2 separate regions of the Homo sapiens genome follow, and region 2 is linked to region 1. Evidence: fine-mapped expression QTL. Tissue or cell type: lung. Region 1 holds a variant in brackets; the other region holds the start of a gene. All regions are shown on one strand. Distances are between the middles of the regions.

What was found. PIP is the estimated chance that this variant, and not a neighbour inherited with it, causes the effect.
Region 2: MACC1 starts here. The variant in region 1 is fine-mapped to the expression of MACC1 in lung (TOPMed, PIP above 0.99).

Annotation. Positions count from the first base shown.
Region 1 is chr7:20,302,351-20,307,567 of GRCh38, reverse strand. It overlaps LOC101927769 (a long non-coding RNA gene), which reads right to left. Exons shown (of 5, transcript NR_110117.1): 4 at 1,545-1,776. Among named protein-coding and RNA genes, the nearest start is that of ITGB8, 26 kb to the left of the region's middle. The variant C/T (reference allele first, on the strand shown) is at 3,065.
Region 2 is chr7:20,214,671-20,219,804 of GRCh38, reverse strand. MACC1 (MET transcriptional regulator MACC1) reads left to right here and starts at 2,421. Exons shown (of 7, transcript NM_182762.4): 1 at 2,421-2,506. It overlaps GIRGL (glutamine insufficiency regulator of glutaminase lncRNA), which reads right to left and starts at 2,228. Exons shown (of 4, transcript NR_134569.1): 1 at 2,183-2,228; 2 at 1,442-1,549; 3 at 49-222. RefSeq lists an enhancer at 1,397-2,596.

The sequences.
Region 1 (5,217 bases):
GCTTTTGAGAAAAAAAAAAAAAAGGTCTCCTTAAAGTTGCAAATAATGACACCAAGAATGATTTGTTACATAGCAGGTCAAAGTAAATCAGTAGTTTCTTAACTTTGAACTGGAACTAGAAACCTAGATATATTTTCTGTTCTTCTGTTTTCTCCTTCTCCTCCTTAATAGCCTCTGAGCAAATTATCTACTGAGTGAAGTTTTATATCTTCAAGTTCAGCTCTGGTTAGGTGTTCACTTTGTTTCTCCATGGGAACAAACACGTTACCATGGGAACTGGGTAGCACAAACTATAAACAGTACTGAAAGCTTTTAGAAAGAACCACGCTTATAGCACAATGTTAACTATACAATGCAAGTGCTAGCTGGCCATTCCAATACCTAGCATATTATGGCATCTCAAAAAGAATAACTTGATCCTGTGCCTTATCAAATGATGAAAAAATAAATAAAACAAAAGGAAACTATACTTTTTTCTCATTAGAGAAAATGCAAAAGTTTGTTTTCATTAAAAAAGTTAAAATCCACAAAACATATTAATTGTGGTGATTATTTGCATTGACTTAAAAGATACACTTAAGTTTCTTCATACGATGAGTGCTTTTTGCACACTGACATTATCTTACATACCATATCTGCTTTGACATATGCTGGGTCTTAAGTCAGGGAAAAAGAAGTAAGAAAGAACAAAGGGGTTAGCACTAAGGGTCTAAAAGTCGGGTGAGTCACCAGCATTCCAAATCATCATATCCCAGGGTAGTGGAACTATGTTTCTGGGCCAGGAATGATTTATCAGGGGTTGGAATCTGGTGGGGAGGGTATGACAATAGGAATTGCAGGCAATGTTAGGGCTTTAGTGCTAGGCAAGAGAAAGATAAGGCCCATTCAGTTAGAAGCAAAGCTCCAGCCAGTGTCTAGGGAACGGAGTGTGAAGTTCAAGGCCAAATACTAGTCATGAGGCAGGGCCCCTGTTCAACAAGTGATGGTTTAGCTTAGGGTGTGGAGTGGAGGATGCCTACAATGACAGGCACACAAAAGTGAAGTTTAGGTAACAGCATTGTTGGATATCTGCAGCTTGCTGACACCTCACAGGCGCTCTGCATACTGGGCCCTGGAATACATGGTTTACTCCAGACTCGAGTTAATGATTGTGGCTAGAGCTTTTAATATATTGCCTGGTTTCATTAACATCATTAACATTGATTCTGTGGATAGGTGATGCTGGCAGCAACTGAAAACAGAAAGGAGACCTGATTTTCTAAAGATCAACCCACTATAAGACCTCCACATTTAATGTTTAACGTTGGTACACTTGTAGATAGAAAGAAGCATTTGCAATTCATTGGCAAAGGAAGAATGCCCATGCAGGCCACACATTTGGTTCCATGTTCTGAATAGTATGCTATCATGGCAATTATTGCGTGTTACCTTTAGGTGAGGAAATGTCTGATGTGACATCAGTCTCTTTGATAAAAGCAATGAAATAAACTTCAATAAAAGAGTTAACATTTTTAAAAAAATGTTCTTAGGTGCCATCTCCTTACCTTGTATTTTTCGGAGTCCTTCAGTGGCTGTTTGGCAGAGGCTCAAAGCAATTTCAGGGAAACAATTTGAACTGAACTGTGTGGTTCATGAAGTTTGAGATCAACAGACTGGCAACTCTTCAGCTTTCAGAAATAATGTGGTCATGCTGTGTGTGTCTCATTGCACTTCTGGGTTATGGTTTATTTAGTTTTATGGAACAAAATAGGTTTCCATGTAAAATAACATTTTCACCTATAAATTAGGAGCAAATAAAACAAAATTAATTTTGATGTAAAAATCTAGTCTCCCCTGTAACCCACATGTAAATTCCCCATGTTATAATTAGAGAAATGCTCTTACTAATATAAGACAAAAGATATGAAAATAAAAAGGCAATTGCCATTTTAAAAGGAAGTAGAAATTCAAAAGAGGAAGGTGTGAGGTTTAACAAAACATTAGAATTAAAAATGATACCGACAAACTAAGAAAGAAGGAAAGTAAGCTGATATTTTTATTTTATTTTTACACTATAGAATTGAATGCAATGTGTAATGTCCCTCTTATGATTTGGAAGTTGAAACAAAACTAAAGCAATGTGTTAGAGTCTCTCCTCATGACCCTGTTCATAGCAGTCAGGTAACTTAGTTCCCCCTTTCTTTTTTTTTGGAGAGGGAGTCTCGCTCTGTCGCCCAGGCTGGAGTGCAGTGGCGCCATCTCGGCTCACTGCAAGCTCCGCCTCCCGGGTTCACGCCATTCTCCTGCCTCAGGCTCCCGAGTAGCTGGGACTACAGGCGCCCGCCACCAAGCCCGGCTAACTTTTTTTTGTATTTTCAGTAGAGACGGGGTTTCACCGTGTTCACCAGGATGGTCTCGATCTCCTGACCTCGTGATCCACCCTCCTCGGCCTCCCAAAGTGCTGGGATTACAGGAGTGATCCCAATACTGGGGCTGACCTCAGGACTCGGAGTACAAAACAGAACACAGCATAGCGGGTGAGAGTGATAGTTCAATGAATAATGAGAATATAGTGCATTAGAAGTAGCTATGAAATGCTGCGAAAGATAAACAATGCTGGACACTAAATAAAATGGTAAGAATTAATATATAGTATTACAATAGGGAAAAGAGTGCAACGTGAACTAAGCTCAACAATGACCTGTACAGAGGTGATTAGGTATTTTAATGGGAGAATGAAGGAGCAGGGAGAAGGTGAGTTGGGATTCCATAGTTTTTCAGGAAAATGAAAAATTACAAAAATCCAGAAACGAGGTTAGTCCACGTGAAACCCATCTAGCTTTGTTTACTGGTGTTTATTGAAGTTCGGCTCCTCCCCTCCCACAGAGACTGGAAAGCGGGATGCTGGTCTCCAGGTGTTGGCTGGGACAACAGGAAATTCTTTATCAGGCTTGGACTTTAAGTGGGGGATAGGCTCATCCTAAGTAAACAATGTTGAGCTGTTAGAAACTGCCTTAGTGTTTGTTCAACCTAGAAAGGTAAGCTTGAGTCCTAGTCAACAAGAGAACTCAGAGGAGCCTGCTAG[C/T]GTTTGGTCAAGGTGATAACCTTTGCTCATACTAAGGAGAAAGGTGCCTGGGTGGGGTCTGAAAACTTTACATCAAGAACCTCTTCAGAGGCCTAATAGGTTTCTCAGTAGACACAATGGAGAATGCCCAGGGCCAAATGATACGTCCTTTAGCAGGAATAGAGTTGTAAATATGGCTTGTGGAGTGGCAGGAAATCAGATCAAAAGGGAATTGGGAGTAAGATCATAGCAGGCTACTGAGTTTGAATTGTATATCATAGTCTAGTGCTTCCCAAAGTGTGGGACTCATTCACAAATAACATTTTGGTTGTATGAGGATGAAGCATGAAATCATATTGTCGCATGATTTAAAAAAATTTTTAATTATCTGTTACCCCCTCTAATTAACTTCCGGAGAAAGGCTTAGGTTGATGCTAATCTGTGTCTTAAATGGTATTTTTTTTTTTTTGAGATGGAGTTTCACTCTTGTCGCCCAGGCTGGAGTGCAGTGGTGCAATCTCAGCTCACTGCAACCTCCGCCCCCCGGGTTCAAGTGATTCTCCTGCCTCAGCCTCCCAAGCAGCTGGGATTACAGGCGCCCGCCACCACGCCTGGCTAAGTTTTTGTATTTTTAGTAGAGATTGGGTTTTGCCACGTTGTGCAGGCTGGTCTCGAGCTCCTGACCTCAGGTGATCCACTCACCTCAGCTTCCCAAAATGCTGGGATTACAGGTGTGAGCCACTGTGCCTGGCCTTAAATGGTATTTTCCAATCAGCCTTTCTAACAAAGAGTAAATGAATTTCTGCCAACATTTAATGATGTAATTTCATTTTCATTAATTTAAAAAAAATAGATTTCTTTTATAGAACTAATAGTCATTTTCCCTTTTAGTAAGTAATATGAAGTTTTCTTTCCAAATATATTTACTTAAGTGAAACACACTGAGTCTGTTTAAAGACAAAGATTACGTGTGGTGGCAGGAGGAAGAGTTAGGATGACTCCCTTCTTTCTGGGTTGCTCCAAGAGGGAAGTGGTGGTGTCATTAACTAAGGCAGGAATTATGGAAAAAAAGCCAGAACAAAAGAGAAGAAAATAAAAACCAAGAATAAGAAATGGCTTGCCTATTATTACTGGATGTGCAACAAAGTTTATTTAAACCAAAGTCCTATAACTTCAAGGACATACCCAACCCACCCTCACATTCTCTCTAATACAGCCAATAAAAGCATGCCATAAAACAACCTCATCATTTCTACAACCTGCCTTCTCACAGCCTGCCATCACCTTCAAAATGCTGGGTGTTTTTTTGTTCTGCTAGGCATTTATCCTAGGTTACATCCTTGGTTCTTATGCAATTTGGTCTTGACTTTAAACGTAGAGCTTTCTTTGGTCTTTATTTTACTGCTTTCACTTCAGGGCACAACTGAAATGCTGTATTCAGCCAAGCTTTTGGACCCTTGGGTCAAAGATCCTGGCACCCATGCTCCTCCAGTAACAGGCAGGCTTGTGTATGTACTTTCTCTCTCTCTCTCTCTGTGTCTCTCTCTCCCCCCATTCCCCCCCTGGAGGATAATCCCCCCTTTGCATGGGGGATTATTAGTGTGTCCTTGAAATATATTGCTTTTTATGTATCATGCATTAAGATATCAGATGTCAGGAATGCAAAGACTTTTTTCTTCTTTGGATATCAGTCAGTCATTCTTTTTGGAGTAATTTAAATTAAATCCCTCTTTTGGAGCAAGACCTTCAACTTTTGATTTTTCTTTTTGAAGCAGATCTCTTTGCCTTTTGAACTTCTTTCTGAGGTTCATATCTGAAGCTATTCTGTCTGTCTTCTGAGATGATGTACCTTATCATATAAAAATGTATGCTGTGGGCTGGGCGCGGTGGCTCACGCCTGTAATCCTAGCACTTCGGGAGGCCAAGGCAGGTGGATCACCTGAGGTCAGGAGTTTGAGACCAGCCTGACCAACATGGTGAAACCCCGTCTCCACTAAAAGTACAAAAAACTAGCCGGGCGTAGTGGCAGGCGCCTGTAATCCCAGCTACACGGGAGGGTGAGGCAGGAGAATCACTTGAACCCGGGGATCCGAGGTTGCAGTGAGCCCAGATCGCGCCACTTCACTCCAGCCTGGGTGAAAGAGCGAAACTCCGTCTTTAAAAACTCCATCTTA
Region 2 (5,134 bases), 88 kb after region 1:
GCTGAGGATGAGCTAAGGCCCCAACTTTACATAGCTGGTGATACTCACACAAGCAGGCTAAGGGGCCTCCAGTCCTTATGACATAATTAGAGGAGAGCTGGGAGGAATTTCCAGACAACAGCCACCTTCACCAGCCAGCCCTTTTGTCTGATGGTCCACACAAAACTCATTGTATGAGTCAGCAGGATCTAGAAGGTTCACTTCCTCCACAGTGGCCGACAGCTAGAAGACACAGCAGAGCATGTGGGGACCAGGAGAATCCCATAGAGGCAGAGGTGTGAGGAACTAGCAACTGTGGAAAGAATTCCCTTCCCTGAGGGAGGAGATCAGTGGTTAAGAACTATTTAAATAGTCCAAAGTGCACAGTTTAATCTTTAGAGCCCGTAGATTAGATAATAGGAGAAGGGATCCATAAATGCTGGAGCTGATAATCAAAAATCATAGATAGAGGTAGGGCCAGGTTTCCAGGACCATGGGACTGAGGACTCTAGGGAGCCCAGTCCTTGGGGAGCTGTTAGAAAGGCAAGTGCACAGCAGGGATTGGAGCTGGTAAACAGTGAGTGCTGACCCACTAGGGCTTTCATTTCGGGTACTGTCAAGGGTTCAATTGCTAGATTTAATGCTTTGCCTTTCTGCAAATAAAGGCTGTGGGAGCCACACCAGACCAGACTGCAGGGGGATTCTGATAACAGTACTCATGCATGGCATTTAGGTAGCTTTTTAAATGTAAATGTTTTCCGGGAGACATAAAGATGGCATTAGGCATTAACACACACACACCTTAGAGTTAACATCTCAGTTATTTTATGTGTTGATTGTTTATCACAAACATCTACTTGTACATTAATGAGTTAATGAAGTAGGGATACAATGAGGCCTTGCCTTCAAATAGGAATGTAAGACTGCATAGGTACACACACACCCATGTAAACCAATGAAATGAGATATACAATGTGTTATGAGAGGAGCAGATGCAATATTATGAAATTGATTAGGAGGAAGAGAATAACTCAGATTAAGACAAACTGAGAAGGACATCTTGAAGAGTGTTTTTCATTGAGCTTTGGAAAAAATGAAATCTCTGAACATTTCAAGATGAGCAAAAATGGTTTCAGGGAGGAGAAATGCCATGCAGAATGCCCTCTGTAGGGTTTGGGGAAATTAAGAACCATTTGTTTTGGAAATAATATAATGACATAAAGGAAAGCTAGGTTCTAGTAGAGAGTTGAGGAACCTGTGACAAAAAGAAACAGAACAGCTCAGTTTGGATTGTGGGATGAGTCAAGGGGAAACTTCAAAGGGAATCTGGGTGGATTAGGTGATCTGGCAGCATGAAGCCAGGGATGCATCAGGGAGGAAGGGGTGGTTAGAACAGTAGGAGAGAAAGTGCAGAAAAGGGAAAGGAAACTTTTTCTTTGTCACCATTCTGCCATCTACTTACATTAGATGAATCCTTCTATTATGTTTCTGAACCCAGACCCAGCCAGGACTTGTCTCTATTCATTTTCTGGGCTGTGTCTAACAGGAGATAATAGGCTAGAGAGAGATGCTGTATGAACAAATAGAGAAACACATTTGTTTTAAACATTCTCTGTTGCTGATGTTGGAAAAAAATGTGAAACAATTATTGCACATTTCATTTCACTAAGTTTTACCTTTTTTCCCCTTTCCCCTAATTTTCTCTTTCTTGAATTTTGAACAAAATACACAGAAGGAAAACACAAAACACAGAAATGGAAAGTAAAATGGAAGAAAATATCAAGAAAACTTTATTCTTGCTTATATTTTAAAAGGCACATTTTAAAGTGTTATCTTAAAAATCCAGAGCATTTTAGAAGATGAAATGCCAAAAGGTCTCCATTATGTCTATATGTCTATGTCTTTGAGTGACAATCACAGTGCTGATGTAGAGGGAAAGGGGGAACTAGTTAGACACTGTCACTCACCTGGGAAGGCTTTATTCACCTGTTCCACAGGGCAGTGAGGCACCTTCAGCTCTGAATCACCGAAAGAGAATCTGGTGGGGCAAGTTCCAGCTGCATGAGGATTTGCTTGCATAAATATTTTTTACTTATTGCTAACACTGAGGGTGCCTTCTTACTCCCTGGCAAACATTAAACCACTTTTATTTCCTTTCATGGAAATAAGATTATATTTACAGATGGTTCTTAGATATACTCACCTGATTTTTTTTTAATTGCTTTTCCACCTGCTTCCCCTTTCTTCTTAGGGTGAAACTCTAGCCATACGCCCTCTTCTGGTTTCGGGTGAGGAGCCTGAATTGTGGGTATCGTAGTTCTCTTGCCTTTTGGGGTTTCTAGTTGGGCAGCTTTGGAGCCACAGTGGTAGAACTTCAAGTCCCAGGTGGCTCAGGAAGCAGGGGTGCAGTTGCCTGCCTGCATACGGAGCAAGGCATGTTTGAAGAGTACCCGGGTTTGGTAGAGTGACTTCTATTCACTAAAACCATGTGTCTGAACTGAAGAAGCTTGGGCTCACTTCCACAAATGTAAGTGCTGATTTTTTAAAAATAATATTCCTTTCACTATTGATATGTGCTACACACTAGGAAGTTGTATAATTTCCAGAAAAATGTAACAAACCAGCTGCTTAACAAATCAAGCCCTGCTTAAATAAAGGGAAGGTAACTGGTATTCTGTGGGCTTATGGGACATGTGTTAGAATAAACCTCATGACATAGAATAGAATAATACCTTGAGACATGGTTTAGAATAAAGTAGTTTATTTTAAAAAAAAGGAGGAACCCAGGTCACATTAACCATCAAAGGCAAAAACAAAACACTCTATGAGTTGCTTAAAATATGTAGATGGCTGAAATCCCCTAAAAACTTTAAATATCTCAAAAAGCATACAGGTATGTTAAAAAGACTGTGCTTTGAAGATAGATAAAGTTGCAATCAGCAGCCCCACTGCTTATTAGATTTATGACCATTGACAAGATGTTTCACCTCGCAAAGTCTCAGTTTCCTCATCTGTAAAGTGTGTGTGCATAACCTACCTCATTAGGTTAATAGCATTAAATTATGAATAAAAGATAATCATGTAATTAAGTTAAGGGGGTCATTAAATTAGCACAGTGCATTGTACTGAATAGACAGATGATACATGATGGAGGGTAACTTGGCTTCATCCTAATTAAGTTTCAATTAAGCTTGGAAAACACACCAAAGAAACAAAAAGACAAATACTGGATGATTCAACTTACCTGAGGTATCTGGAGTAGTCAAACTCACATAAATGATACTTAGAATGGTAGTTGCCAGGGGCTTGGGGGAAGGAGAAATGAGAGTTGTTTAATGGATATAGAGTTTCAGTTTACAAGATGAAAACACTTGGAGACTGTACAATAATGTAAATATATTTAATACTATTGAACTTAAAATTTGTAAGTGTAAACACTTACAAATGGTTAGGATGGTAAATTGTATGTTAAGTTTTTTACCACAATTAATAAAGATAGATTTTAAAAAATTTATTTTTAAGATCAAAAAGCATGTAGTGAAAATTCCAATGCCTTCCATTTATTAAAGGTCTTCCTAATTTCCTAAAAATGTCTTAAGTCTATATTCAGTGGGTCTAATTTAGGATTGATATTGACTTATCTATGTTAATGTCTGGTTTTTACATAGCAATTACTGGGTGATAATGATGAATTTCAGGTATATTCTTAAAGTTGTCTTAACCTCAGTGGTGATTCTTTTATGCCCCCCTGAACTTAATTACATGATTATCTTTTATTCATAATAGCGATTTTTAATATGATTTCATGGGTAGTGTACAGAATCTAGAAATTATGAAGTCATAATTATTAGTTACAATTTGCTTAAAAGCTTTAGTTATGACTCATTTTTAAAACTTAAAGCAAAAATATTATTTATTCCAGTTTTCTCAACTTCCTTGTAGCTAATTTACAAATAGAATATTTTTATCTGTTTGTGTTTTAGAGATAATAAAAACTATTAAGGCAAAGTTTGTTAAACACCATCTTATCTTAAAATGTATTGGCTGATTTGGAGGACAAAAGACATTTTGGAATTATACTAATTTTGAACTTGAAGACATGTCTGTTGAATTTTTAGAGAATTCTTTCTTGAAAGACCACACATATGCCTAGGTGTCTATTAAGACTAAACATCCCTTATGGCATTTGGTGATAAGTGAAGGTGATAACAACCAGCATTTCAGATGACTGTGCAGAGTTTTACATGTGATATGCCATATATTAATAAATGTAAACCCTATGTCAGCAAGTCCAGGATAGAATTAGAATGAAACTTGTAATTCTCCAAAGGTGGAGGAAAGCTGCAGAGGCACTGAACACTGTATACTTCTAAAAGGGTGGCTTTTTTTGTTGTTGTCAAGTGCCGTCTATGGTGTAGTGTCTCTAGGAAGTGTCATTCATTCAATTGACAAAGATTTCTAGCAATCCTGCAATATACTCCCCCTGGGCTGGGTTTAGAGGCTAGAAGAAACTCATGCACAGCCCTTGAGGGGATCCTTATCTACTAGCAGAGATATGACCTCATAAATAGTTAAAGAGAGTAAGTGCTAATTCATTAGTCATTCATGCTGTTCATAGAGTCACTCCACAGAAAGTGTGATGCTCAGTATCAGGGGATTAAAAAGACACCTTCAAAAACCTTTCTTTCAACTATAATTACTGGAGACCAAATAAATAAATAAATAAATAAATAAATAAATAAATAAACTTGAGATGTATATGAGTCATTCAGAAGCAGAGTGGAGTGACTTCCTAAAACACAGAAGAGACGCGTACCCAGGCTGCCAGAGGAAGGGGCAGTCACAGTGCCCTGAATTTCAAGAGGACATTGTGGGAGGTGGTGGAACTTTAAGCAGGCCTGGAAAAATGTGCAGAGTTGAGATGGGCAGGAAAAGGTCATGAAAGTATCTCACGTACAGCAGTGTTTTCCAAACTTTCGCACATTAAATGATTTTCGGAAACATATGGACTGATCAATCAATAACAATAACATTAAGATTACAGATTGAGAAAGTTATATTTTTTGACTTAGTTTCAATTCTTCAGAAATAAGTTTTGTTGTTTTTGATATGACTTAAACTTCTCCAAACACTTGTTTAAGCTTCCTTTATAACA